Regions from separate parts of the Homo sapiens genome. Here regions 1, 3, 4, 5, 6 and 7 are each linked to region 2. Evidence: fine-mapped expression QTL. A gene starts in region 2. Each other region holds a variant in brackets. All regions are shown on one strand. Distances are between the middles of the regions.

Region 1 (4,080 bases), 160 kb after region 2:
CACCCCTCTCAAATTATAAAGGTCAAAGATTTTCCAAATGGAAAAAGAACCCGGGGAGGTGATGATTTTCAATTATGTGGTCCCTATGTAATGATGAGTCCTGAGCTTTCATCAGCCTTCTTAGCTGGATCACATCAAACCACATGGGGATTTTTCAGATGAACTGCTATTCAGCCTGCTCTTCTTTTTGCTCTATTATGCTTATTGCATTTTAGAAGTTGAGAGTAAACTCTCCTAGAGAGATTGGCTGGCTACTCTACTAGGCCTCAGAGGGAGATGGAATCTAAGTGGATTCTCCTCCTCAGTTTTATGTGTCTAGAAACTCCATCATATTAGAGCAGTCATTGCTCTTCTGGTGCTTTGGCCTGATTCACACAAATCCAACTCCAAAAAGATTGATGTATAAACGAAAATGCCTTTTAAAAATTTCTAATGAGATCTATATTTTTGCAGTGACTGATACTTGTGTCTAATATTAAGCAGATAGCTTGTAAAAACCTAGGGAAACAATTAGTAATTAAAAGTTTACTGGGCACAGAACCTAAACAAAAAACAAAAACAAACAGAATGTTCTTGAATCACATAAAGTATACTGCCCTAATATTAAAGTACTTACGTCTGCTAAATACTGCCTTTCTCTCATGGTCTGTGTAAACACCAACAAATCCTTCCTATTAGATTTCTCTTTATCTAGACTCTAAGCAGACCATCCACCTCCTATAAATCTATTCTTCCTCTAGACAGAAGGAAATACAATGGCTTAGGTCATAACTTTAAGTTATATTCCATGCGTGAAGATATTCTCCTAGCTATCATGATTGTAGGAGAATGCTTTCCAGGCTTTTATTTCAGCAACACATTATAAACACTCTCTTAACATGAATGACCTTTCATCTATTTTAGTTTTCTAATACTTTCATTTTTGGAATAGTTAATATACACACATAATAAAATAATTGTGTTTCAAAAAGTATCAAAAAAAGACATACAGTGAAAAGTTATCTCCCACTCCTGCATCCCATCTTTTCCACCATCAGTCTCTTGTGTATCTATCCAAAGATAATCTACACACATTCTTTTCTTTTGCATAATATAATGGTAGTATACTGTGCACATGGTTTTGTTTTTTGTTTCTAGAATTACATTATTCTCTGTAATAGCTGCGTAGAATTTCATCATATAGATGTACCATCTTTATTTAACTAGTCCTAGTAATGATACACATTTAGATTGTTTTCAGTCCTTGGTCATTACAAAGACTGCTACAATAAATAACATTGTTTAATTAATATTTCACACCTGTGCAAGTATATTTTTGGATGATACACTTGCACAGGGGTGAAATATTAATTAAATAATTCCTAAATGTGGAATTACATTTTTACTGTAATAGATATTGTCTAATATGTCTCCATAGCGTTGATCTGATTTACATTTTTACTAGCAATTTATGAGGGTGCCTATTCCCACACACCTCACCACAGAAAGAGTTCATTAGTTATCTATTGCTGTGTAAAAAGTAACAGTAGGCTGTGCACACTGGCTCTGCCTATAATCCCTGCACTTTGGGAGGCCAAGGTGGGCGGATCGCTTGAGCCCAGGAGTTTGAGACCAGCCTGGGCAACACGGTGAAACCCCCATCTCTACAAAAACACAAAAAATCAGCTGGATGTAGTGGCTTGTGCTGTGGTCCCAGCTACTTGGGAGGCTGAAGGGGGAGGATTGCTTGAACCCAGGAGGTGGAGGTGACAGTGAGCTGAGATCACTGTACTCCAGCCTGGGCCACAGAGAAAAAAAAATTACCACAATGCTAAATAGCTTAAAATA[A/G]CATATATTATCTCATCTCTCAGTTTCTGTGAGTCAGGAATTTAAAGGAACTTAGTTGGGTGGTTCTGCCTCGCTGACTCTTATGAGGTTGGACAATGCTGCAGTCATCCAGGGTGGGAGGATCCACTTCCAAAACGTCTCACTCACATGACTATTGGCAGAAAGCCTCAGTTCCTTGAAAATGTGGACTTCTCTGCAGGCCTTCTGGAGTGTCCTCCTGACAGCAACTGGCCTTTCCCAGAGAGAGTGATCCAACAGAGAGAGCAAGTAGGATATAGCTGCGCCTTTCATGACAGCCTCAGAAGCCACAAATCACCGTGTCTGCTATGTTTTATTCATCAGAAGTGAGTCGCTGAGTCCAACCATATTCACAGGGAGGCAAAGTAAGCTCTACCTCTTAAAGGAAAGGAGTATCCAAGAATTTGTGGATATATTTTAAAACGGCCACAGTGAGTTATCAAACTTGTTTTTATCTTTGCCAATATGATAGGTGGAAATGGTATCTATTGTGATTTTAATGTGCAATTTCCTTATTGTGAGTTTTTTTACAGCTTTACTGAGGTATAATTGGTATACAAAAACTGCATATATTTAATGTGTACAATTTGATGAGTTAGAACATATGCAAACATCCATGATCTCATCACCACAATCAAGGTAATAGACATCCAACACCTTACAAGATAAACAAAATTGACTAATCTTTAGCTAGATTAAGAAAAAGAGGGAGACAACTCAAGTTAATGAAATCAGAAACAAAAGAGGAGACCTTGCGCTGTCACAGAAATTAAAAGGAGAGAGTAGTATGGAAAATGATATCACAACAAATTGGATAACCTGGAAGAAGCAGATAAATTTCTAGATACATACAACCTACCAAGACTGAATCATGAATAAATAGAAAATCTGAACAGATCAATAATGAGTAAGGAGATTGAATCATTAATTTAAAATTTCCCAAGAAAGAAAAGCTCAGGACCAGATGGCTTCATTCATGAATTCTAATTTTTTTTTTTTTAGAAAAAGAAAACCATTCATATTTCCTTTCTGTAAACTGTCTGTCCATTACCTTTGTTGATTTTTCTGTTGGGGTTTTGATGTTTGTCTGAGGATATGAATTGCAAATATTTTCCCTGTTTGCCTGTTAACTTCCTCTGTGGTGGGATTTTTTTTTTCATGCCAACTTTCTAATGAAATTAAATTTTCAAATGTTTCTACTATTTGGAGCATCTTAGAAAGAACTTTAGGGCCAGGTGCGGTGGCTCACACCTGTAATCCCAGCATTTTGGGAGGCCGAGGTGGGCAGATCACCTGAGGTCAGGAGTTCAAGCCCAGCCTGACCAACATGGCGAAACCCCATCTCTACTGAAAATACAATATTAGCCAGATGTGATGGTGCATGCCTGTAATCCCAGCTACTGGGGAGACAGAGGCAGGAGAATCGCTTGATCCTGGGACGCAGAGGTTGCAGTGAGCCAAGATTGTGTCATTGCACTCCAGCCTGGGCAACAAGAGCAAAACTCCATCTCAAAAAAAAAAAGAAAGAAAGACCTTCAGCTCTCTGAGCATATGGTTAACAATCTGCTATGTGTTCATATATATACACATACGTGTGTGTGTGTGTGTGTGTGTGTGTGTGTGTTTTGGTGGGGGAACAAGGTTTGCTTTGTCACCCAGACTGCAGTGCAGTGGCATGATCATGGCTCACTGCAATCCTCCCACTTCAGCCTCCTGAGTAGCTGAGACTGAAGCAATCCTCCCACATCAGCCTCCTGAGAAGCTAGGACTACAGTTGCATACCACCACGCTCAGCTAATTTTTTAATTTTTGTGGAGACAGGTCTCACTGTGTTGCCCAGAGTGGCTTCAAACTCTCGGGCTCAAGTGATCCTCCTTCTTGGCCTCCCAAAGTCCTGGGATTACAGGCATGAACTGCTGTGCCTGGTCTGTTTTCTTCTATATTTTTGTGGTGTATTTTTTTCTATATTCAAATATTTGATTCACCTAAAATATATTTTGGTATAAGCTGTGAGGTAAGGAATCAAATCTTTTTTTTAGTTCCAGAAGTTGACTGCAGATCCTTGAATAACATTGTTTAGTTAACCATTTCTTCACAACATTGATGAGAAAAATAAATTGCTTTCCAGCCAGAGCCACTCTCTATGTGGAGTTTGCACTTTCTCCCCACATCTGCATGGGCTTTCTCCAGGTACTTTAGTTTCTACCCACATCCCAAAGATATGCACCTTAGGTT
Region 2 (4,080 bases):
TGCTCATCTGTAGAAGTGGAGGCAGAAGTTAAGGGGCAAACACGTGGCACATGCCCCGCACCTTGAAAGGGAGATGTAATCAGCGAGGAAGGCTGGGGCAGTACAGGGTTTGATCATCTCCGCTAGGATGTAGCTCTGCGGTGGGTGAGGAACTCAGCAAACTCCTGACATCCCGCCGCTAGGATCGATTTGGAGCTATGGATTCATCTGAAATTCCTGATTCGAAACAGGAGTATGAGAGTGAAAATGAAATTTACCTTGAAGCTCCTCCTTTTACAGATTATGGAACTGAACCTCAGAGGAGTGAAATGATATACCCAAGGTCTCACCACTCAGTAGCAGAGGCAGTTCTAGAAAGCAGGCCTCCAGACCCTTATCCAGGATCCTTGCAATGGGGGCTTAGGGGAATTAGGGAATGGGTCATGGTTACTGCAAGTGGCTTGGCCAAGAACCAGCTAAGCAGCTAAGGCTTGTTCCATCTCTGCCAAGCTAGGACTCGCCTCCTCTCAACCTTGTGCCACATCCAGTTTTTGCTTCCAGGCTGGGGGCCTCTGATTGCTTACTCTAAGGGACAAAGGCAATTATTTACTAAAGCTAACCCCATCCAAGATGAGGAAAATACAACACTGGCACTCAGGAATTAATTTCACAATAAGTCTATGTTAAGGTGATGTTTTATTTGTGGCCCTGCCTGATCAAGATGACTTCCCCACAAGAAACGTCCAAAGCAAACAATCTTTTTTTTTTTTAAACTGAGTCTGGCTCTGAGACGTGAAGAATTGTACACTTCTTTAACTGTCCTCCAAAAGCAGAAAATAAGCCGGACAGAGCAGCCAGAAGGACACCAGAGTCCTATGCTCAGTGTGTCAGGAAGCGACCCACAAGTTCTGGAGGAACATCCTTCCAGGAAACTGGGCAGATACAGATCCCCCACCCCGCTCCGCCCCGCAAAAGGTAAGACGATCTGTACTCGGTTTGGTGACAAGCGTTCATCTGGACAAGCTGGAAACAAGTCTGAACGGGAGCTGCAGGCGCGCACGCCAGCGCCACCGAGGGAGCGCGGGGAGTCCTCTTCTCCCAGAGGACCGACGCTGCGGGGACGCGCCAAAACCACCCGCGGGCGATCCCAGGGGGCTGGCGCCACTGAAACCTCCGCAGGCAACTCCGCGGCTACCGCTGCCCCCCACCCTACTCCTGCCTCTTACCCCCAAGGCACCATTTCTCCCCCTCAACTCCCTGCCCCTCGGCCCAAGCGCTTCGGTGGGAAACAACGCCCACTTTGGAGAATCAGAGGTGAGTTGTGGGGACACGCCAGATGTCCAGATCGCATCCTTTCACAGATCAACCAAGTCAGATACAAACACGAAGGAGTTTGCTTCTCTGACATTTTAAAAACACACCATCAGGCAGCACACTGAGACACACACACGGGGGTAACAGCCACAGGGAAGTCAATAACCCACAGGGGGGCTCCTAACTATCGTTGTCCCGTGCTCGGGGCAGAGCGCTTGGGGTCCCTCCCTATCTCCAGGCCACAGCGCTCTCCTGCCCACTGCCTGTGCGCAGGATGGGAAACTACGGTCGCCCGGCTGCCGGAACCCAGAGTGGGCAAGCTGGGGAAAGGCCCACCTCCTCGTCCTGCTCCTCCTGGGACGCGCTGCTGCCCCGGGGCGCGGGCGGCACAGCTCCTCCGGGAAGCGGCGGCGGCAGCGCAAGGACTCCGCGCTCCAGCAGCACGCTTGCCGGAGCCCACGCGGCGGGCGCCCGGGCGCCCAGGGTGCCTCCCAACGGCGGCGGCGGCGGCGGCTGATGCTCTCTGGAGAAGCCGCCGGGCTCCCCTTCCTCCGACAGAGTTTCTGAGCCCGAGGAGGACTCGGCCGAGGAAGCACCCGGAGAGGACGCGGCGACCAGCGCAGAGGCTGGAGTCCGGCTGCCGTGGCCACTGCAGCCGCGGGGCACCGGCTCTGGCGCCTCCGAAACTTTCTCCCCCATTTCCCTGTCTGGCCCAAAGTGCCTCCCGAGCGGCGGGGGCGCGGCGCGCACTCAGCGCCTCCCGGGGAAGACGCGGGCTCCTGGGCTCAGGCTCACTGGCACTGCCGCTCCCGGGCTGCAGGGAGCCCCGCCAGCGACTACATGGCAGTGACGGGGCCGCAGGAGCCCGCTGCTAAGTTCACAGCCGCCCGGGCCCGGCCGCAAACGGAGGCTCCCGCGCGCGGGGACATGCCCGCTCGGGTCCGCGATCTGCGCTCCACTGTGCTCCCGCGCTGCACCCGAGCCGCGGGTACTGCGGCTTCTCCTTGCAAAACCTGCCTCCGGGACGGAGCAAGGAGACGGGCAGCCCGCAGAGCCAATGGCAGGGCAGGCGCGCTGGTGGGCGGAGGCTGCGACGCCTCCGGCCATGAGGGCCTCAGGTAGGGGAGGCGGGGCCCGGGCGCGGGCCGTGGTCCCGCTGGAGCGCCTGGGCGCAGGGGACAGGGACCAGGCGGGGGTCCCCGGAGGGTGGGGGCGGAGCCCAGAATCGGAGCCAAGGGCTGAGACTCCGAACTTAGCGGGGGAGTGGCTGACCGTCCTTGGGACGTCAGAGGGAGACGGCGAGCGGATGGTGAGACCTTGGAGAAGAACTGGACTTTGTCTCCAAAAAGTGGAATCAAGAAAACGGACAAGAAGGAGGGCTCTATAGGGAAAAAAGGAACCACACACACACAGTCACCCACGCACACGGACTCACCAGCGTGTTGGAGGAAAAGGACAGAAACTTCGTGGTATAGTGAGCGGACCCAAAGGGGAGTGACCTCTAATCTCTGCTTTTCCGTTTAAGCTCTTTGGGCCTCAGTTTCCTCAACTGTAAATGGCTACATTACTACTGGTCTTGGCAGGCTTAGAGCAAATATATATAATGCATCAGCAAAGTGCCTGGCTTGGATACACGGAGCGTTTTTAAAAGACTATTTCCTGTCTTTATTTCTGTTTGTAAACTAAAAAGTTAAGTCTGAGACTTGAACCTTTTGATAGGGAGGAAGATAAAAAAGTATGTCCTTGTATTTAATTAGGACCAAGCTCTGTAGTCCTACTCAAATTGTCTGTCTCGGTATGATCAGCTAAGCAGAGGATGAAAAGGATTCACTTTCCAATGTACATTCTCCTAGCCCTGGGTTGTAAACCAACAGGATACAGGACAGGTTGCTTCATTTTCCTTACCTCTAAGAACTAGGAGAAAGAACTTTCACTAAAGGTACCAATAGAGTACCCTTAAGTCCTTCCCTGGGGCTGGAGGATGCTGCCTGTCCGGTGACTGGAATTTCCTTGGAAGCCAGCACTCAGCTCAGCAGTGGGAAATAAATGATTCCTCTCTTGCCTTCAGCTCTAGTCCCATTCTGAGCTCTGGCACAGTGACCTGGGATGTAAATTCAACCGCCTCAGTTCCATGTACGTTGATGGAGATGTGTGCCAGGTGCAGGGGATACAAAGATTAATAAGTCAGGTCCCCTGCCCTTGAGCAGCTTATGGTCAAGCGAGAGATTGATACTGCATAATATAGCTCCCTTATCCATTTTAGAAGCTGTGATAAGTGATACAGGAAAAATGTGTGAGGGAGAAGAGGAAAGAGTTACAGAAAAACAGTAGCAGGTCCTTGAGCATCTTAGATTTCTCTTTGTCAGAGCAGCCTTGCCAAAGGTCCTTAAAAACTGGAGGACCCTAATTGAAAGCCCCTTCAGCTAATGAGCCTTTCATGCTATCATGGTATTTACAAGTGATACATCACACAGAGGGCTTCATCATATTGGACAGCAACCTTTGTCCTGATCAGTTTCCTCCCCTCAAGATGAAGGGGAAGGAAATACGTTTTGTCTATCTTGCTTCAGACAGCCATACTGCAAAATGGACTCCGGTTGTCAGGCTTTCATTGTGACGCTTCTGAATTATTCACAGGGATATGAAGACCTGCTGAGGCAAAAGGTCAAGTCTAGTGGCAGCTAAGTTGTGAGAGCAAGGCTAAAGAGAGAGCACAGTGGGGCAGTCCGAATTTAACCCGGGCCTCACAATTACTTTCCTATTTAGGAGTTCTGGTCTTTATCTGAG
Region 3 (4,080 bases), 460 kb before region 2:
TCAACATCTTGGGCAAATGGCTCCTTTAAACTCTTCCAGACTTTCTTTATTGGAATTAACCCTTCTCTTCTTTGCATCACCATGGATAGAACTTTGAAGAAAAAAAAAAAAACCAGCATATAAAGCAGTTTTCATTGTCTAGTTTTTACAGTACTGTTCTAACCTTCCTTATAATTCTATAAAGTACTTGAGGCCAAAGGCTCTCTCTTAAATCTTCACTGTCCCTAAAATGACCATCACAATGTATTAGACAAGTTCAATTTTAGGGAGAAATATGCTGAACAGTTCTTAACATTAGTACTTTTCATATGAGTTATCATGTTTACATTTCCCAAGGATATTCCTAACATGGAAACCATGTCTTGTATCATCCAGGCATTTAGAAATGGAGAAAGAAATAATTAAAAAGAGACCCCATATAAAAAGGAATTCTGTATTTTAGAGTCCAAACACTGAAACAGAGAGGATAAGATCTGGGCTAACATATCGCAAAGAACAACTTAGGGATAAAACAGCAGGAAAACAAAGATAACATGTGAAGACATACCAAATATCAAAATGCATTAATTATTTTAAAAAACCAACAAATAAAGAAATAAAACAAAACTCAAGAAATGGTAACCAATTACCTGCATGAGCAGAGAGAGGTGAGTGTGGTCGAGGCAATGCTGGTGACTGCCCATTGCCTATTAAGCTTTTCCGGTTGCTTGTTCGGCAACTATCAAAAAGAAAGAAAAAACAAAGTTTAAAAAGAATATAGCATCAATAATGTTCAACCATGTTCCCGGTAGACATGGACCAGGTTGAGCAACCTATCTGCTCATGTTATTGTTAAAATTATTACAATTATGCATTCACTAATATTTGAGGGGTGGCTACCTCTTGAATATTAGAAAATATAATGTATTCATATAGCACAACACCATCAATATTCCTCACCACCAGTGGAGCAATAATCAAATGCCTTCTTCCAGCGCTTGAGTGCAAATATGTAACATGCCATACACACAAGTGATAAATTAAGGATTCAAATCAGCAAACCACAGGTAGCATCTTTGTTGACACAAAATTTCTAATACAAAATTACATGCAATGAAGTGCAGTGACATTAATCTTATAATGACGCACTAATTAAAAATCTAATTATTTAGACAAATTTCTTATTTGTGCCTTTTGTCAATAGAATAGCTGATGCCTAAGATAAATGTGTCTCACCACTCATTCATTTTTCATCTTGTATATGGCATTCAATTCTTTATTAAGGTAAATGTTCTGGAATCATAAAATCAGATCCCAGTGTATTAAAATAATAGTGATGGTCCTCTTTCACAAGCATGCTAGCTACTGGTTTTATCCTGAGTACCCAGAGCATAGAAATAAATTACTACACATGGGCACAGGGCAACAATTTGTTCCTGTTTCTGCTAGAAGGAAGTTATAAAATGGCTAATTTGATTTCAAAGTAACTTTCAAAAGCCTTAAAGAATAAGACAAATACAAAACTGGCGGATGGGTGAAGTGGATATTATCTTATTTTCATTTGCTTTTCTTCAAAATAGACTGGCACTTCATTCTCTATTAGCAATACAGTAGTCAGAGGAGGGTGGTAAAACCCAGCAAGTTACCTCATTTAATTCACCTATAACAAGGCTCAGGGCTCTGTGCTTCTATCCTCCTACACTGTGCTGCCCTCAACCACCATTAGGAGTTTATTGCAATGCCTTCTTAGTGCAGGACAGAACTCTGTTATACCAGATTCCTGAAACAGGAATTTTCACTGGACTTCTAATTTAGGTACAGTGAGATAACATTTCTAAATATTCAAATAATACATTTCAAAACCAAACCCAATTTCTTTCAGCAATACAGACTTGGGAGTTATCTTCTCTTAGATGTTTGCTGCTTATTATCATTTGTCAACAGTCCCATATTTATAATTTCTTAAGGTCAGGCTGCATCACTTTATTTTCCTTAGTGCAGCAATCAGCATCCCCTAGTATTATCTGTGAGTTTAATTAAGCTCATGTTTACTCAGCCTTAAAGCAGTTGTTAATAAGAATAGACTTTTGATATTTAATTATGAAGGTGGGTTGGATATTATCAACTCATCTATCAAGAAATGTATGTATTCAACCTATTAAATTCACAATCATTAAATCAGACAGTCTGATTGGTTTTAAAAGATACTGTATAATGTATTCAGTGTTAATTCAAATTAATGTCTTCTTTCATTCCAATACAGAAATATTAAATATATTAACTTGCTGATGTTAATAGAAGAAATTATAAATGACAGATTTATGTCCTGGAAATGTCAGCAAACTTCTTTCAGCAAATTAACTGAA[G/A]TTCAGGTTATTATAAAAATGGCTACATTTTTTCGTGTTTAGCATTTGATCTACATCATGCATAAAGATCTTTTCAACATATTTATTGTTTATATGCATAAATAAAATTCATAAGAAATGTCTGTCAATGCAAATAATCTAATGAATATCTTAACTAGATATATCAGTGAAATATGCTGATATACTTAAAACTAAATTTAGAAAATGTTATTTAAGAAAAACTTAAAAAATTTCTAAGAAACGTACACTACCATACATACTAAGGTACATACACTACCACAATAGGCAAAACAATGAACAATTTAGATTTTTTAAAAAATGAAAACATGAACAACAAACCCTCACAATTCCATTAGTTATTTAAAATCTATCAAAAAGGGGTAGAAAAGTGATTTCAAAAATGTGATTCAAAAAAAATATCAAAAAGAAATGTCTAAATAAAACCCCCAAATAAAATATACTTGTTTGGTCAATATACAAACAGATTTACATTACAGTCATCCTGGGTGCATCTACTCCTCTATACAGATTTCTAATCTTTATAAATAGATGATTCATTATGAATGCAATGTAGAGTGAAAGAAAACAGGCTATTTCATCTATGAATACATGAGAAAGTTAAAAGAAGAGAAGTTAAAAACAAATTACCTCAGAATTTGAACAGTTTACCATATTTAAGGTATGGGTAGTATGTTACACAAAACAAATTATCGAAGGTATATCTTATTGACAAATGCCATGAATAATCAAAGCATAATTCATCACTGAAAGTGTCTCCTCTAATCTTTTTTCCTTTCAACATGAAGCTAGAGATGATATTAAAATTACAACAGACTTGGAACTTTCTGGGATCTCTCTCAACAATGAAATAGAAAACTTTTAAACATCAAATGATCCCAAAGTAGCAAAGCCAGTGTTTATATAATATAGGCTGATATATTTCCATATGTACATGAAATAAATCTGTATACTTATGAAATGGGGTCTTCGCCTTATGAATGAATTTGTTGCTAAAATTTTCAAGGGTAGAGGGACACTTTACACAGCATTTCATTCCCAAATACCTATATCTTGATATATATATCTAAATACTTTTAAAATCCTAGGACCCTACTGAGATATTCTGTAGAAAACCTTTCCAGGGTACAGGAAGGAAGAGTCATCCAATCTCAGTATTACCTGCTTCTGGGATATCTGACAGTCACCTAATCTTATTACTCTAAGTACCTGATTCCCAATAAATGAATTAAAATCTGCACTTAACTCCAACAGTAAGAAAACTTCAAGTGGGTTAGAACTGCATCTGTCACCCAGGTTGCCACAGCACCTGGCAATGCCCACATTAATAATAACATTGGTGCAAAATGCTGAGCTGACCTCTGTCCTCCAGGTATCACACACTTTCCTGCCCATGAAAGCAGAAGTTTATGGCACCTGCACGTCAGGCAGTCTCTCCAGGTGTTCATGGCCACACCTACTCATTTAACCCATTAAATGATAAAACAGTGGAAACATCTCCACTCAGGCAAATTAAAGGCTCCTTCCTTTTCACCAGCACAACTAAGTCAATTCTGCCTTGTTTTTTTTTTTTCAAGCAAAGTCACCCAAGGGAAAAACAGGTGATGTCCGACCAGATTAAACATGAATACTACTTCTCCTGTAGCAGAAATATCTTTTTTATAACTCACCCTTATCTAAGCATTTGAGCTTGTAAAGAGTTATCTCCAGTTTTCAT
Region 4 (4,080 bases), 610 kb before region 2:
GTATAAAGTTAGAAGGTGAACATCTCATTAATATTTCACATCAGTTACATTGATTTTATATGATTGCAATAATATTTTGATATATTGAGTTAAATAAAATATATTCCTGAAATTAATTAATTTTTCACTTTGGGGCAGGGAGGACTGCCATGTCATTTATTAAGAGAAAGCAAAATGAAGCAAGGAGCTGCTCTGGGAACACACAGGGTGATGGCACAAGAACACAATAGCTAGTGTGTCCCACAGTCCCGGAGGCCCCTGCCCGCTTCCTCCACCAGGGCCTGCCCAGGGTCTCAGGGTGGCCTCCCTACCCTGCTTCCCTCCAGACCCCTTCCATCCCCTTGGAAGGGCATCCTCCCTCCTTACAGGGCCAGGTATTTTTCTCTGGATTTAACCAGACAACGACATTTTATTTTCTGTTCATCTCCTCCAACCACCCAACTCCCACCTCCTCCCACTTCTCTTCCCTGCCTCCCTTTTGACTGAAGAATCCCTGCTCCCTTGGTCTTCCAGTGAGGCCGCAGTGACTAAAGGGGACCCCTTCCCATCCACTCATCCCCACCCTGGTCCAGTTTCCCAGACCCCGATGCAGTTGGTTGTAAATTCTTCCAGGAGCTGTTTTCTGTCTCCTTTTTGGGAATTTTTTTAAAGTAAAAAACTTAAAACAGAAGTTTAAAAAGCAAAATGTGGAAGAAGAAAGCAATGACAGATTTGTTTCGTGGTTTTTTTTTTCTTTCTAAGGTGGGCTACTAGAAAACTTACAGTTGCATATGTGGCTCCCATTTCTACTGGGCAGTGCTGCTCAGAAGGATGTGCAGGGTTCGCCCAGGCAAGGAGACCCATGTTTAAGGAGATGACAGAGGCTGGGAGAGCACTGCCTAAGAGAAAGCCTAGGGGACGAGGCTGGGATGGGGTCACAGAGCATCGGGCTGGCACTCTCCCACCTCGCTCTGCCCTTGACTCCGACTATGACTAAATGGACATTTTTCATGGGCAAGGAAGGAGACAGGATTAAAAGTTTTCTTCAAAGCATTGGGCAAAACTGGTTGTTTTGGTGGGTTTTTTTTCCCTTCTTCGGGCTTCCCTGATGCCTTCTTTCTCTTGTTTGATCTCTGGGGCCAGACTCCCTAGGTTCAAGCCCCAACCCATCCATACAGTGAATGACCTTGGGCAATTTACTTAGCTTCCTTGTGTTTCTTTGCCTAGAAAAGACTACTCAGAGTCTAGGCATAGGATTACATTAGTTTGCATCTCTAAAATACTTAGAACAGTACCTGGCAATAGTAAGCACTATGTGCTAGATACTCATTTCTCAGACAAGAGGGGGATAAAAGGTAAATTTTAATGAGCTTTCTTATGAAAATGGTAAATGCTTCATATTCTATTAATTTAAAAAACATCAGCAACCTTCCAAATTCAATTCTGCTGATGAAAGTATATGTATTTTTTTTTAAAAGATGACAATCCAAAAAAAAAAAAGGTGCATCTATTTGGGAAGTGTGGGCCATGGCCAGGCTATTTTCTTGTTAGAATTCTGGATTGGGAGCAGGCCATCTCCTGCCCTGGAAAACAACCAGCTCTTCAAGAATCCAGCTCCACTGCACCCACACAGAGCTTGAGGCCTGGGGATAGCAGGTGCCTTAACCGCTTGTCATAGGTCTGAATTGCAATGGAGCTCAGTCATTTCCCGTATCAGCACACCATTTTGACTTCACATTTTGACCTCTCCAGAAACTAGCAAACCGCAGTGCCCCACCCAGCTGTACAGGTTTCTCTGAAAAACCACAGCCTAGGCTATCTCCAAATCAATTCTGAGAGTAGTTTTGTCATGACTGACTCAC[T/C]TGAAGCAAACATTTTTTGTCATTTGTTCAGTTTCTTTATTGACTCTTGACTATTTAATGTGCATGTTTCAAAGTTACAAGTCAGCCTCGCTTTATACAGCCAAGATATGTGTAGTTAAATTTTTAAAAATCAAGTCATCAAAAAACTTGCACCACGTTTGTTACAGTTGAAAGAAATTCTACAAGGAACTCTAGTCTGTGAGCACAGTCACAAATAATATGAGTCCTTTGATAAATTAATGTTTATCAGTTCTACAAATTAAAAGTGTTATGGTAGATTTGTTTAAAGCAAATTAAACTATATTTAGAAGGTGGGAACAGAAATTTTACAATTTCCTCTTTTTACTTCTTTTTTTGTTTGTTTGTTCATTAATTATAGACTGCAACAGGAACTACAGTAGTTATGTTCCAACGAGAAAAACTATGCTAGAATTTGAAACTAGAATGTTAGAATATCACCATACTTGGCCATTGCTGATGGCATCTCTCTGTAAGGACTTTTTCGCTACCTTGATGTCTGTTTATGGCTGGTCTGATCATGGTATATGCTTATTCTGCCATATAAACTGGATTTTTTCTCTGGTTGAAAACCCAAGACACACCAGTTCTTAGCTTCTTATTTTCTTCTCCATAGGCTCCATATCTTGCATCTCATTTGGGGAAAAAGTCAAAAAGCTAGATTTGCCCTACCTCAGAGGTGAACTGCCTACCACATTGGCCAATGTCAGGGCTGTGGGGCATGTCACATCTCAGGGGGCTGGAGCCCACCACTCCCTGACTTACCTCCTACAAACACATCCCACGGTGCCTCAGCTGGACACTAGGTCCCAGACCCTGAACTGGAAGAAGCTCAGAGCCGGGATCTCAGGCAGGTTTCCTCTTTGATGGTGCTGGCTGCTGAGATGATCAGGCATCTGAGCAACCCCAAGGACTCAGATGAGTGGGCCCCAACGAGACACTGAGGGAAGAAAACAAATGGGTGCTACCTGGGCCTTCCACAGACCAAGAAAGATGATGATCCCACAGAAACAAAGTTCTGGTGAATGAGGAACAAATGGGAAGGTATGACAATGAAAAGCCACAGCTTAAAGTGAGGTTCAACAATAAAAACGAATATAAAAATCTGAGGGGATGAAAGCTTAAAGAGGCCCAATTAAAGCAAGAACTGAATGCTGACCAAACTGGCCTTACAGGAAAAAGACTTTCAGAAAGAAAATGCAATCGAAGTGAAATGAACGACAGGCAAAGAAACAAATGCAACCTATAAAAATCAAAGAAAAATAATGAAGATGTGTTTTCCTGAGCACGGAGGTCACAGGGATTGAGCAAGGTTTTGACCAACTCCCCATCAATCTCCACATAATAAAGTGATAGATTTCTGCGACTGGGGCTGGTTTGGTTTTGTTCTTAAGTCAGAAATTATAGTTGTTTCCAGATCTTAGGCTAGAATCGAAAACTTGGGAAACACTCGGTATTTTTTATTATTTTGAAATTAAAACTCCCAAATGTAAATTGCCCCAAACTAGCAAATCTCAAAAACCTAAAAATCTTACATATGTTCCAGCCATGCAGGAGCTGAAAGAGAACTATTTACAATAGTTTTGATCAGTGTTATTTATAAAATGGAAATCTCACGAGTCTACTTAGAGCAAGTAGCACTTTTCTCTGGGGAAGTTATTGGGGAAAAGCAAAGCATTTTAGTCCCAGCTATACCAAATTTGGTGGCTTTGGGCACTTATTGGAAGGATCCAAACTCTGCTTTAAAATAGAAACACGTATGTGAGACTCAAGTCATCTCTAGAAAGATGTTTAGAAAATATGTGCAAATGTTCAGATATTGCCACAATAAAAACCCTCTGCCGAATCTTAACCATTTACTTCTAGTTCCCAAGCTCGTCCCCGAGCCCCTTCATATTCTACCCAGGGCACTCACATGCAGGATGACTGCTGGAGATCTTATGTGATTGGGGAGAGCCTCCCTCACAGGAGGAAGAAGCCTCAATAAGCAGAGATTGAGTATGCATATCTGGCAAGCCACCTTAATTAGCTTCTTCATATGTACAAACATTTCCTCACAGCCCTACTTAACGATCAGCGGTCATCATGTGCCCTAATTCAGAGACTCTGTATCAGCAATAAATTGGGCCTGGGGCAGCCTCCTCCTGCCCTGTCATTAAAGAGTCCTATTTACTGTGGCCTTTGCAGTCACTCCATCTCCTTAGCACTGGAAAGTCACTAC
Region 5 (4,080 bases), 410 kb before region 2:
GTCACAAACTACCCATCGGCGTGGAAAATGGTTTTATTGATTTAGGCATCATCAAGGTTGAAAGATTATCATTAAGCAAAATGAAAACATGACAGATTTCTAAACATTAAGGTTAAAACACAAGCATCTTCTGGATTCTCAAGACTGCACTTCAGCAAAACTAAAGGCCCAACTCAAAACTTAGCAGCAACATTTAGAAATCAATTGTAGCCCTTTCCTTAAGGTGTGACAGAGAGCAGATATAATTAAAAGAGAAGCTTGATTCGTTTCCCCCAAAAGTTTTTCATCCAATGGGCAAAGAAAAGATGCTATAAACATAAGCAGTGACATGAATGCAGGCCAACTAATTTCCATTCTGAGTTGTGAGAGGATCCTCAATGAATGGAATAGCCACAGACCTATGAAACTGAAAATCTCTGAAACATGCAATCATTACTTCAGTCTAAAGCAACAAGTTTTCGTATAAAGTCTCTTCATTTATGCCTAGGTTTCTGTCCCTCAAAGCAGCAGGTGAATGGCTGTACTGAGACTACCTTGAGGAAATGAGGGGAAGGGAGAGGAGGACAAAGCCAGTTATATAGAAGGAACTATTTCCAATGGAACATGTAAGCTATACAGCAACAGAGTAGACAAAAGCCAGTGTGCATCCCAACAATCTCATGTCTGCCATGGTCAAGACAAAAGAGAATGAAGGGCATAATATACTGTCCTTGGGACGTAGCACAAGGGACAGAGTCTTTCAGTTCATCAGTACTGTGTCATCTTTGAGAATCTAGGCCTGAGAGTATGTCTGTAGGCTTCTTTCCTCAGGAACCCCAAGAGTTACAGGCACAAGTAGGGCTGTAGGTTTTAAGAAAAACCTTCAATATTTTTCTCTGAGAGTACAAACTAACAAACCAGCATCACATTGAACTATAAGGCAAACGTAATGTAGCAAACCAAAAGTTTCCATGATGACAATTTCTACCATAATAAAGGTTTAAGGTAAGAGTCTGAAACCATTCAAGCTCTCGTTTAAGTGTGACAAACATTCTATCCTTATGAGTTCTAAGATGCTCATTCATAGGCTCAAAGCTGAATTTTACTTTGATAGATGCAAGAAGCTGATATTAAAGAAAAAGCTAAGATAAAGTCCTCCAGATTACAATGTTAATCAGAACAAACAGATGGGATAAAATATTCAAAATGAACAATCTGTCACACAAGTCAGCAAGTGTGCAGGAGAGGAACTAAGTTTGGGAATGAGAGATATCTCAAGGGTTAAGGCATATCTGACTGATGATGACAGCAAGGTGTCCTCACCTGGACACTGGGGACACCCTTATCGAGGATGGCAAAACAGAACAACTTGCGAACAGAAAGGTCCTTTGGAAAGGAGAAAAACTACTCAGCCCGGTAAGGTACAGCATTAGACTTGGAAAAGGAAACAGGATTTAGAACAGTTAAGGGGCATCTCAAAAGTAGAAGTCACAATGTAAGCACATGTTTCATGTCCTTAGGGAAGGACATGGAGCCAGAATTGATCACTGTATAATAACAGGATGCAATAGCCACATACATTGCCCTGGAGATGAGGATACCTAGCCTTCTGAATCTACATAATAAATATAAAGCAATGCTAGCCCTTTGAGACAGACAATGACTCGATGGATGTAGAGATGATCTTTGGGATGTTTATTTCCAAACTGCAAAACCTGAAAATCTCCAGCAACAAACAGGCTGTCATAACCTTTACTCTTAAAAGGGGGAGAAGAAAATCCCCTTCCCTCTCTATTTTGCCAAATTGAAGATACGGTTTCATGACTTGGGGTGGAAACAGCCCACCCAATGCTCTCCCATTTTACTGGGAAGAATTCAGGTTTCCTTAGAATCTAGGCTCTCTGTCAGTGTGAGCTGTCTGAATTGGAGTGTTCAGGCTGGACAGGTACTGCCCTAAAGCCAGGCTCAGAGCAGCCTGAGAATCCTCCTGCATCTGACTCTCTCCAATAATACTATCAACAGGTAGGTAGGAAGAAGAAAGGCTCCAACTGCTCTACGGGTTCAGACACACACATACGATGCCAGAACAGACTTCTCTCCCTAAGAACTGGTTCCAGGTAAGAGTAGAGGCTGTACCGCAGCCAGGACTACACAACTCAGAAATATTTAAGGGATTCTGTCCAGCTGAAATGGTAAGAAATCATACGAATTATCACCATGTTGAGCAGTGGCCTAGTTCATGTGTAGCATGTATCTCTCTTCAACTTTATTAGTTGTCTTGGAGGTTTGGTGCATGGTTGACACAACTTGATGAGCAATACTACAAAATGAGCAATACTACAAGAGAGGGTCTCTGACCATATATGGCAGAA[C/T]GAGAAAAACATAGTCACATTACTTAAAAGGTACAACTTCAGAATCCAACATAGTTTAGTGGTATCAACACTTCAAACTGCATCAAAAAGCAAATATGACTTTGAAACCTGCCAGATGTCTCTCTCATACACACAGGTGCACATGTGATTTGTGTGTGCACCCATGTATATAAACAGTGTATGTGAGTATTCCAGGATGTTTCTGAAATGTAAGAAACCATGAAAAACTTCAAAAGGAAAAACTAAGTTTTCTAAAGTATCACATATCCACATTTATACTACAAAAAGTTACAGGTATAACCAAAAAGAACGAACCATTTTCTTGGGTTCTTTGAACACTGAAGCATAGAGATTGTGAAGCTCCAAATCTGAGAGCCTGCATCCTGTTTATCTGACTGCAAAGTTGCTCTCATGCATGTTCACATGTACATGCAAGGCAAGTTTTGAAGGAAAACAAAGAATCAGTATTAACACAACTCAAAAGGTGTGCCCCTCTAAAAGTACAACAATCTTACTTTTCTGTGCTGGACACAAATGTGGTGAGAAATGCCTCCTTCAAAGTCATAGTCTCTCAACACAAGTGTCAGCAAACTCTTGGAACTGCCTGTCACTTGTGGCATGAGCTTCATCTTGACATTAAAATTCTTTTTCTTTCCCCATCTTTTCTATCAAATATACGTTACAAAATGAAAAGGACACTCCTGTATTAGTAATAAATGCCAGCAAACCATTGAAAAATCAAAATGACAAAGTTATGTAGATCTGCCTCTCCACAGATAGTATGAAATAGCTAACCTGGGCTATCCTTGCATCGTACATCTGCATCTTATAAAGGTCAAATATTTAATAGAGAGGAACATCTGAAGGGCTCAACGAAAAGTACCAGAAGCCTCAATGACTGGGTGAATGAAATGGATAAACATGATCAGGTCAAAGGGACAGACTTAGACAAAGTATCTCCTCCTCTTTCCCTTTTTCTCCCCCACCTCTCACAAGGAAATGTCTTATTATCCACATTTCAAAAGGAGAAAACCTATGAGAAGCACATTTATCAGGGTTACCCAGGAAACCACAAGGACGAAGAAATACCTGAAACAGTACCCCCTCCCCTAGCGGGGCATAAACTTTTCAAAGTGTCACCCAATACACAAAACCCCAGCTCCTGAGGGGCTCAGGCAGCTCCGCCTGTGGGCCCCTGGGAAGTGAAAGCATTCCCTCTCCAGGCAGAGATCCCCGCGTTTTTACCTTTGTGTTCGCCGAAGCCTGTTCCCACTCCTCAAATGAGGCAAAGTAAAGTTTGAGAGCACAGTCCAAAAATTGGGGTCAGACATATCCATTTCTTTCTCTCTTCAATTCACTGTGGGTTCAAGGCCATATGACTAAAATGGGGAGAGGTAAAAAAAAGGAAGAAAGACAAGGCCAAAAATAAAAAAAAAATCCCAATTATCTACTCACTCCCTCCAGAGAAAATGTGATGGGAACTGTGATCTCAAGAACAACTTGGAGCATGTCTGAGAAGTACCCGTCCCGTCCTAGCCTTTAATTAACACACAGCCTCCTCTCAAAGGTCCGGGAAACTGATTTCCTCTCGGGTCTGCCCTCTCCTAGTCAGGCTCGGCCAGCTATAAACAGTAATTACATGAGTTGAGCCGTGCGTTCTGCTCAAAGCGCTGTCTGTGGGATTCAGTCGGAGGTACTTTGTCATCTGTTTGGCAGATACCACTCGCCG
Region 6 (4,000 bases), 590 kb before region 2:
GAATACATGACTACCCTGGGGCACAGGATGAGGAAGTTATCTGTACTTATGTGTAGGGTTCTGCCCAAAAGCCTACTGTCTGGTATCAGCAGCCTACAAATACAGAGATCTAAAATTAATTCATACTTCAAGATTGCAAGGCCTCAGGTCTATGCCACCCTGCTAGTTTTTTTAAGCACTGTGTTAAGAAAAAAATGTTAAACATATACAGAAATAGTAACAAAGAATCTCAATATTCGACAATCATAAGCATTTTGCCTACTCACTTCATCTCTGCATTCCTCTCCTCCTTTTTTGCCAGATTATTTTAGAGCCAATTCCAGCATCATGCTGTTTTACTCCTAAATATTTAAATATGCTTCTCAAAAGAATAAGAACATTTCTTTTAAATAACCACAAGTCCACTGTCATTTACAAAATCCAGAATTCCTTAATATCATTGAATACTGTCCTCATTCAAAATTACCTGACAGTCTATAAAATGCCTTTTTGAACTGCTTTATTTGGATCAGGATCTAAATGAGGTCTACTGTATTATTTGATGGTTATGTCTCTTAAGTAGATCTTATATCTCTGTATCTTTTAACAAGCACTATCTCCTCTCTCATTCTCTCTCTCTCTCTCTCTCTCTTTCACACACACACACACACACACACACAGATAGAACAAAGTCAGTTGTTCCATAGAATGTCCCACTTAAATCCACCATATCACTTTGAGATGTGAAGTTAAACCTAAAATCTTGATGAGTTTAAAGTTTAATTATTTTTTTGGCAAGAATACTTCATAGACAATGCTGTATACCTCACATTGTCTCACATACGAAAGTATGTAATGTTTGATTGTCTTATTTTGGTGATGCTTATCTAAGGTCGATTTGTTTGTTTCAAACTGAAATTAAACATTTCCATTCAACCAAAATCAAAACTGTAAAACCAAGTGCATTCAGAGAAGTCTCACATTTATCCCTGCTCTTCTATCTGGTCTCTTCCCTCTTCTTAAAGGCAATCAGTTTTTGGGTTTTTGCATGGTTTGTTTTAACAAATATAAGAAAATTCACACACACCTTTCTTACACAAAAGGCATACTCTGTACATTATACTACATACTGTATACTATATACACTACATATATTGTTCTGCATTTTGCTTTTTTCACCTTGAAATATATCCCAGATATCACTCCATATCAATATATGGAGGGTTTTTTTTATTTTTTTCAGTTTTAGAGGATTCCATTTTGTGAATGTACCATGTTTTGTTCAAGTAGTCCTATATTGATGAATAGTCTGGTTATTGTCAATTTTGCTATTACAAAAAAAGTACTACAGTTAACAATGTGCATTCATCATCTTGTTTTTGGCAAGTGTATATTTGGTAAAGATTACTAGAAGTACGATTGCCGCTCGGAAGGTAAAACATATATAATTTTGCTAGATAGTCTATAAAATTATTAAGTCTAATATTAATTTACTTTGTTTCTCCCATCAGAAAGAAGCCAACAAAACATATAACTGTGAAAATTTAGGTCTCAGTGAAATCCCTGACACTCTACCAAACACAACAGAATTTTTGGAATTCAGCTTTAATTTTTTGCCTACAATTCACAATAGAACCTTCAGCAGACTCATGAATCTTACCTTTTTGGATTTAACTAGGTATGTATCTGAGTTATTTGTGTGCTCTTTTATTTTATTTAAGTTAAAATACAGTATGTGCTTAATTTATTTGCAGGACCTTTTTGGGGGGCCCAGGGACAATCTGCTTATACTACATGTTTATGCCTCCCCATGAAATACTCCTATGTGGGTGAAATGTAATTTAAATAAACATCAACCAATGGAGAGGAAAATGGATTGCTCTCAAACCAGTTGCATCAATAGCACTGTTGAAGCAGTTCTAAGGAATACTGATAGCAAAAATGAAAATAATCTTGTACTAAATCAGATGCCAAACTATGCTAAATTTTGGCATAGTTTATTTTTGGGTAATTACATTTAAGAAAAATTTCTAGGAGAAAAGCACACCATCTACTTTTCCCCCCTACAAATTGGAAAATGAGTTCCATTATTTTGTTATAGTGGCATAATTGGGATTCCACATGCTGAGCCAGTGTTTGAGAACCAGTAGGAAGAAGTATTACAAGAAAATAAGGGAAGAAAATGAAAGGGCTATACTGCGTGTGTGTGTGTGTGTGTGTGTGTGTGTGTGTGTGTGTGT[A/GTGTGTA]AGAGGGGACAGGCTCTGCGTGTACCTGCAGTCTGCACCCTTTGCGGCAGTTCTACTTCTTCTATTTTGTCCTTCAACTTCAGCTTCTGTGGACAGGATGTCCACATCCATACTACCGCTTCATCTTTAAAAGCACCAGTGTGAGATTCCATGGTGCGTAGTATCATCCAACTTATGGTTAGATGAGGAGGCCATCTGTGTGTGTGTGTGTGTGTGTGTGTGTGTGATCCAGTATTTTTAGGTGCAATACCAGGATGGTTTTCTCAGATGAAAATACAGAGGTTGAGAAAAGTTGTAACTTGCCCGGGATGACACAGATTTTTGTGTGTGTATATATATATGTATTTTATACCATATATTATCTATTATGCATTCTATATGATATATTTTGTATTACTTAAAACAGTAAATAATAATTTGATTTTTGCCACAATCAAATGACCCATGGTTCCTTAGAATACAGGCACAAACCTCTGAGGGTTCAATCTAAGGGGTGAGATACCTGGAAAAAAAATCTAGATTGGCGTGTTCAGAAGTGAGGCTACTCATTAATTCCTTCAATAGGCCATCTGTTGATATTGAAGAAAGTTCTTATATTTGATTTTGAATGATACAAAAGATGACTTTGTTAATGTGTGTCACTGTAAAGTATTTTTTTACTTTTTTCAAATGAATTATTGTTAAATACGATTATCTTTTCAAGGTGCCAGATTAACTGGATACATGAAGACACTTTTCAAAGCCATCATCAATTAAGCACACTTGTGTTAACTGGAAATCCCCTGATATTCATGGCAGAAACATCGCTTAATGGGCCCAAGTCACTGAAGCATCTTTTCTTAATCCAAACGGGAATATCCAATCTCGAGTTTATTCCAGTGCACAATCTGGAAAACTTGGAAAGCTTGTATCTTGGAAGCAACCATATTTCCTCCATTAAGTTCCCCAAAGACTTCCCAGCACGGAATCTGAAAGTACTGGATTTTCAGAATAATGCTATACACTACATCTCTAGAGAAGACATGAGGTCTCTGGAGCAGGCCATCAACCTAAGCCTGAACTTCAATGGCAATAATGTTAAAGGTATTGAGCTTGGGGCTTTTGATTCAACGATCTTCCAAAGTTTGAACTTTGGAGGAACTCCAAATTTGTCTGTTATATTCAATGGTCTGCAGAACTCTACTACTCAGTCTCTCTGGCTGGGAACATTTGAGGACATTGATGACGAAGATATTAGTTCAGCCATGCTCAAGGGACTCTGTGAAATGTCTGTTGAGAGCCTCAACCTGCAGGAACACCGCTTCTCTGACATCTCATCCACCACATTTCAGTGCTTCACCCAACTCCAAGAATTGGATCTGACAGCAACTCACTTGAAAGGGTTACCCTCTGGGATGAAGGGTCTGAACTTGCTCAAGAAATTAGTTCTCAGTGTAAATCATTTCGATCAATTGTGTCAAATCAGTGCTGCCAATTTCCCCTCCCTTACACACCTCTACATCAGAGGCAACGTGAAGAAACTTCACCTTGGTGTTGGCTGCTTGGAGAAACTAGGAAACCTTCAGACACTTGATTTAAGCCATAATGACATAGAGGCTTCTGACTGCTGCAGTCTGCAACTCAAAAACCTGTCCCACTTGCAAACCTTAAACCTGAGCCACAATGAGCCTCTTGGTCTCCAGAGTCAGGCATTCAAAGAATGTCCTCAGCTAGAACTCCTCGATTTGGCATTTACCCGCTTACACATTAATGCTCCACAAAGTCCCTTCCAAAACCTCCAT
Region 7 (4,080 bases), 560 kb before region 2:
TGTGTGTGTAATTTTAATCAGAGTAATAAATGTACTTGGGTGAAAAAGTCAAATACTTCTATAAACATACAATGAAAAACAGCAACTCCTCTACTCGAATTTTTCTCTACTCCCCAAAGAAGTCGCTTTGTATTCTTTTACCTGTTTCTTCTCCCATTTGTCTACATATTGCTAAATGTTTGTACACTGCTATTTTTTAGTTTTTCAGTTTTAGAAATTACCTGTTGATTTTCTACTATGAAAGATGATAATTAAGCTCTTATACAACCACCTTCTACCTTGCAACCAAATATATTTCCCCTTTTCTATTCTTCCCAATATAGCGAAAGCAAAATTTTTGGTTAGAAAAACGGCCGGTATTTTATCTTATATTATAAATATTGTTCACAGCTGGGCCATATGAAACATAATTCTGTTCCTTTCTTGTATAACTTTTTTTCCCCCCAGAGTTAATACATGGCTTTTCGTTTGCTTGTTTTTCTACATTTCTATCATCAAAAATCCTTTTAATATGATGTGACTCATCAGGCCCAATTGAGTAAAGAAATGCTGTGGCATTGCAAAGGAGGCACACCCAGAGAGCTGCCTGGCAAGAAACAGCCCTGCCAGAAACACATACCTCTTGCTAGTGTCTGCAAGCAGCACAAAAAGATACTGATCAGTGCTTCCCAGGCTACAAAAGTATATAAGCTAGTTCGTTTTTCAGTGAGTAAAACAAAGCCCTTTTATTTCTAGGCTTATTCGGAACCTTTAAAGGTAACAGTAATTTTAGAATATCTGGCATTTTAAAAATAGCAACTGTTTGTTTTTTGATAACGTAAAGGACATTTTAAATGTAGATTTAATGTTAAAAACCACCTGAAGATCCAGTTCCTCAATCCAACTCAACTGAAATCAAGTGAAGAGGCTTAAAAAACAGCAAAGGGCTTTTCCTGACATTCACACATGATAAAAAACAATCTGAATCCTTCCACAATGTAAATATGTAAATCCTTTTACTATGGAAGTTGATGCTATTATGAATATGGATTTTAATGTATACATATATGTGAACCATAACATAAAATTTCTCACAGAAAAATAGATCTTCTTCATATATAAGCATTTAATTAAGGGGTAACTTTTCCCCAACATAGGTATACACCAAACTTAAAAAGAATACTGATTTTACTAACCTTTCGAGACTTTCTTTCTTCTTGGATTTCTTGCTCCGCCTCACCATCCGGCTCTTATAGCTGTTTCTCCTGGCTGGTCCAGTTTTGATTGATGTGTTTTCAAATGGGGTAGTAGTGATTGACACCTTATTCCCACTCTAAAGAAAAGATGAGGTGGCATTAAAGGGAAATGCTGTGATGAAGCAAGATCAGAACAGAGATGAGAGATTCATAGACAAATACAAATAGAAAGGAACATACATATAAAAGGCCTTCTGTTTCTAAATAACCCTTCAATCAAAGAAGTCCTGCCAGAATACAAACTGGGTGGAAGGCAAAATATGAAGTTTCTTTACGAGGGTGAGTTCTGGAGTCCACAGATCTGAGTTCA[A/C]ATCCAAGCACTGTGCCCTTACCAGGCTGCTACCCTCCCTACCCTCAACTTCCTGTACCAATTAACAATATAATCCTACCTATCTCCTGGGGCTCATTTGAGGATCACATGAGAGCAAGTCTGTAAAGCCTTTTGCACCCAGTGCAACACAAGGAAAGAACACTATAAATAAGATAACTACTTCTTCCACAGGTATTAAGTATTAATGTTCCCAGTGGCTGGCTGCTCTTGGTTGATTTTTCTTTTTTCTCCTTTTTGTGTTTTTCCTTTGGCCTAAAAATTGTAGAGTAACAAAACCGAATGAGACTTTTATTTTTAATTATTTTAAAAGGCTCCTTTTCTATCACCATAAAACCTATCAGTTTGCAGAGCTGGAACATTTATGCCAGCCAGTAGGAAACCTCTTTTTAACCAGGTCATACAGGGTAAGGTAATTTCTGTGAGTTTCGGTGTCCTTTCTCTCAATCCTGGGAAGGGGCTTGCTGGGCAGCCTCTAGGGATGGAACTGAGCGTGGAGTCAGCAGTCAGGCCGAGGGGGGCCCAGGGCAGGTGGGTAGTCCCTGGCATCAATTACCCTTCCTGAATTTCATAATAACCAGGGGAGAAACCTGTCCTTTCAAGGTCACAGATGGCCCCGATTACCATGAAAGTACAAGAGGTACAAGGAAAAGGATCTTTTTAAAGGCCCATGCCTGGAAGATACCTAGAGCTCAGCTCAACATGGTACCAAGTGAAGGGGAGTTGGGGGGAGTTAGGTATGGTGGCAGCAGAGGACTGAAAAGACAGGGAATGACTGTCTTAAAGATAGCATCTACCTTCCCCCTTGATTTGGGAAGTAATCCATGCTACAGTAAGAAGATAATAGGAAAGTATTAAAAAAAAATTAAGAAGCTTACCACCCAACCACTAGTCATATTTCAGTATATTTCCTGCTGGTTTTTTCTCACGCATGTGTAAATAGGCACATATGTACACATGCTTTATAACTAATTTAAATCTCAGTTTATTTACAGCTTTATGTTGCTTTTTCATTGCACATTATATAATTTGGAAAAATTTTCCCTTTATCATTAAATAATCTTTAAAAACATGATTTTTACTGGCTGAGCAATATATCCGATCAGATGGGTGAATCAAAATTATGTAATATTTCCTTACTGCTATTGTTCTCTTTTTTTGTTGTTTTTTGAGACACAGTTTCACTCTTGTTGCCCAGGCTGGAGTGCAATGGCACGATCTCGGCTCACTGCAACCTCTACCTCCCAGGTTCAAGTGATTCTCCTGCCTCAGCCTCCCAGGTAGCTGGGATTACAGGCATGTGCAACCAGGCCTGGCTAATTTTGTATTTTTAGTAAAGATAGGGTTTCTCCATGTTGGTCAGGCTGGTCTTGAACTCCTGACCTCAGGCGATCTGCCTGCGTTGGCCTCCCAAAGTACTGGGATTACAGGCATGAGCTACCGTGCCCAGCTGATTATTTTCTGTGTTTAAATTCTTACACAGTTTGATGTTGTCCCTTATTTAGTTTGGTTATTTGTATTTCTTTAAGAAATGATTTATTCAGTCTTACATCCAGTTTAATATTGGAAGGTCTTAGTATTTTATTATTAGTTTTAGAGTTCTTTAATTTTTTTTAATTAAAAAAAATTTTTTTGAGATGGGGTCTTCCTCTATTGCCCAGGTTGGAGTGCAGTGGTGTGATCACAGCTCACCACAGCCTCGAACTCCTGGGCTCAAGCAATCCTCCTGCCTCACCCTCTGAGTAGCTGGGATTACGGGAGCACACAACCACGGCTGACTTAGAATTCTGTGTGTGTTTAAGACAATATACTTTCATACCTAATGTCATATTTGCAGGAAATATTTTAGGGAAAGGGGGCTTTAACTTCAACAAGAGAAAAAAGTTTATTTTGTTTTCTATCGCAAAATAATAAACATTCTTCATGCAAGCCCCAAAACATTAAAAATAAACCTTTATCTGATAGTAGAGATGGCATTCTAGTTGTTCTTTAATGAGAAAAATCATTTTGTAAGTATGTAAGGTCTACCACTGAAGGTTTTTTGGAGTGGGGTCTTCTCTTCACAAATTGAGGCCATGCTGAAATTTTAGTATTTCCTGTGGTGAAGGAAAGGGGCAACAAGCATGGCGAGTTCCTGTGTCACTGATGTTCCTTCAGTCCTCTTCCATATGCAGAGAGTGGACGTGCAGAACCATAATGACCGCTGGGGCTATACTACCATGTGTGCCACTAGAGCTGGAATCCAGTTCCACTCTTTTCTAATACAATTCAGGATTGACTTTTTAAAAGCATAGATTTATTTTTAAACCATTTTCATATATATTCTCTAAATTTATTTTCACAAACAAGTCGTAAGCGTTGTTTGTTTCACCCTCATGGCCTAGAAGAGTTTGTTATCCTTCCTTTACAGGTAAAGAAAACGGATTCTGAGACAACAGACAACAAGGTTCTTGTTTCCGAGGTCACTGAGAGTCCAGTGGAAAAGCCCATGCTGGCTCTCTTGCTGCTCACCCCCAA

Which allele goes with the higher level. Positions count from the first base shown, and alleles are read on the strand shown. Sizes are in standard deviations (SD) of each study's normalised expression. Not every link is listed here.
For the expression in left ventricle of the gene that starts at base 2,255 in region 2, A is the high allele of the variant in region 1 and G is the other (large effect, 0.81 SD a copy in GTEx).

What was found. PIP is the estimated chance that this variant, and not a neighbour inherited with it, causes the effect.
Region 1: its variant is fine-mapped to the expression of MAST4 in left ventricle (GTEx, PIP above 0.99). The same link has a PIP of 0.9 or more in atrial appendage.
Region 3: its variant is fine-mapped to the expression of MAST4 in whole blood (INTERVAL, PIP above 0.99).
Region 4: its variant is fine-mapped to the expression of MAST4 in whole blood (INTERVAL, PIP above 0.99).
Region 5: its variant is fine-mapped to the expression of MAST4 in whole blood (TOPMed, PIP above 0.99).
Region 6: its variant is fine-mapped to the expression of MAST4 in whole blood (INTERVAL, PIP above 0.99).
Region 7: its variant is fine-mapped to the expression of MAST4 in whole blood (TOPMed, PIP above 0.99).

What each region holds. Positions count from the first base shown.
Region 1 is chr5:66,438,343-66,442,422 of GRCh38, reverse strand. It overlaps LOC105379003 (a long non-coding RNA gene), which reads left to right and starts at 1,997. Exons shown (of 3, transcript XR_948380.3): 1 at 1,997-2,276. RefSeq lists an enhancer at 1,738-1,987. The variant A/G (reference allele first, on the strand shown) is at 1,828.
Region 2 is chr5:66,594,568-66,598,647 of GRCh38, reverse strand. It overlaps MAST4 (microtubule associated serine/threonine kinase family member 4), which reads right to left and starts at 2,255. Exons shown (of 29, transcript NM_001164664.2): 1 at 1,630-2,255. The coding sequence starts at 1,992. RefSeq lists silencers at 1,510-1,659, 1,670-1,809, 2,420-2,619.
Region 3 is chr5:67,051,042-67,055,121 of GRCh38, reverse strand. MAST4 (microtubule associated serine/threonine kinase family member 4) reads right to left here. Exons shown (of 29, transcript NM_001164664.2): 5 at 630-718. Among named protein-coding and RNA genes, the nearest start is that of MAST4-AS1, 49 kb to the right of the region's middle. The variant G/A (reference allele first, on the strand shown) is at 2,346.
Region 4 is chr5:67,204,799-67,208,878 of GRCh38, reverse strand. No RefSeq gene overlaps it. Among named protein-coding and RNA genes, the nearest start is that of CD180, 10 kb to the right of the region's middle. RefSeq lists an enhancer at 1,530-2,729. The variant T/C (reference allele first, on the strand shown) is at 1,842.
Region 5 is chr5:67,004,602-67,008,681 of GRCh38, reverse strand. All of the region lies in intron 4 of MAST4 (microtubule associated serine/threonine kinase family member 4), which reads right to left. Among named protein-coding and RNA genes, the nearest start is that of MAST4-AS1, 2.5 kb to the right of the region's middle. The variant C/T (reference allele first, on the strand shown) is at 2,352.
Region 6 is chr5:67,183,508-67,187,507 of GRCh38, reverse strand. It overlaps CD180 (CD180 molecule), which reads left to right. Exons shown (of 3, transcript NM_005582.3): 2 at 1,491-1,657; 3 at 2,923-4,000. Among named protein-coding and RNA genes, the nearest start is that of CD180, 11 kb to the left of the region's middle. The variant A/GTGTGTA (reference allele first, on the strand shown) is at 2,220.
Region 7 is chr5:67,157,688-67,161,767 of GRCh38, reverse strand. MAST4 (microtubule associated serine/threonine kinase family member 4) reads right to left here. Exons shown (of 29, transcript NM_001164664.2): 27 at 1,176-1,312. Among named protein-coding and RNA genes, the nearest start is that of CD180, 37 kb to the left of the region's middle. The variant A/C (reference allele first, on the strand shown) is at 1,546.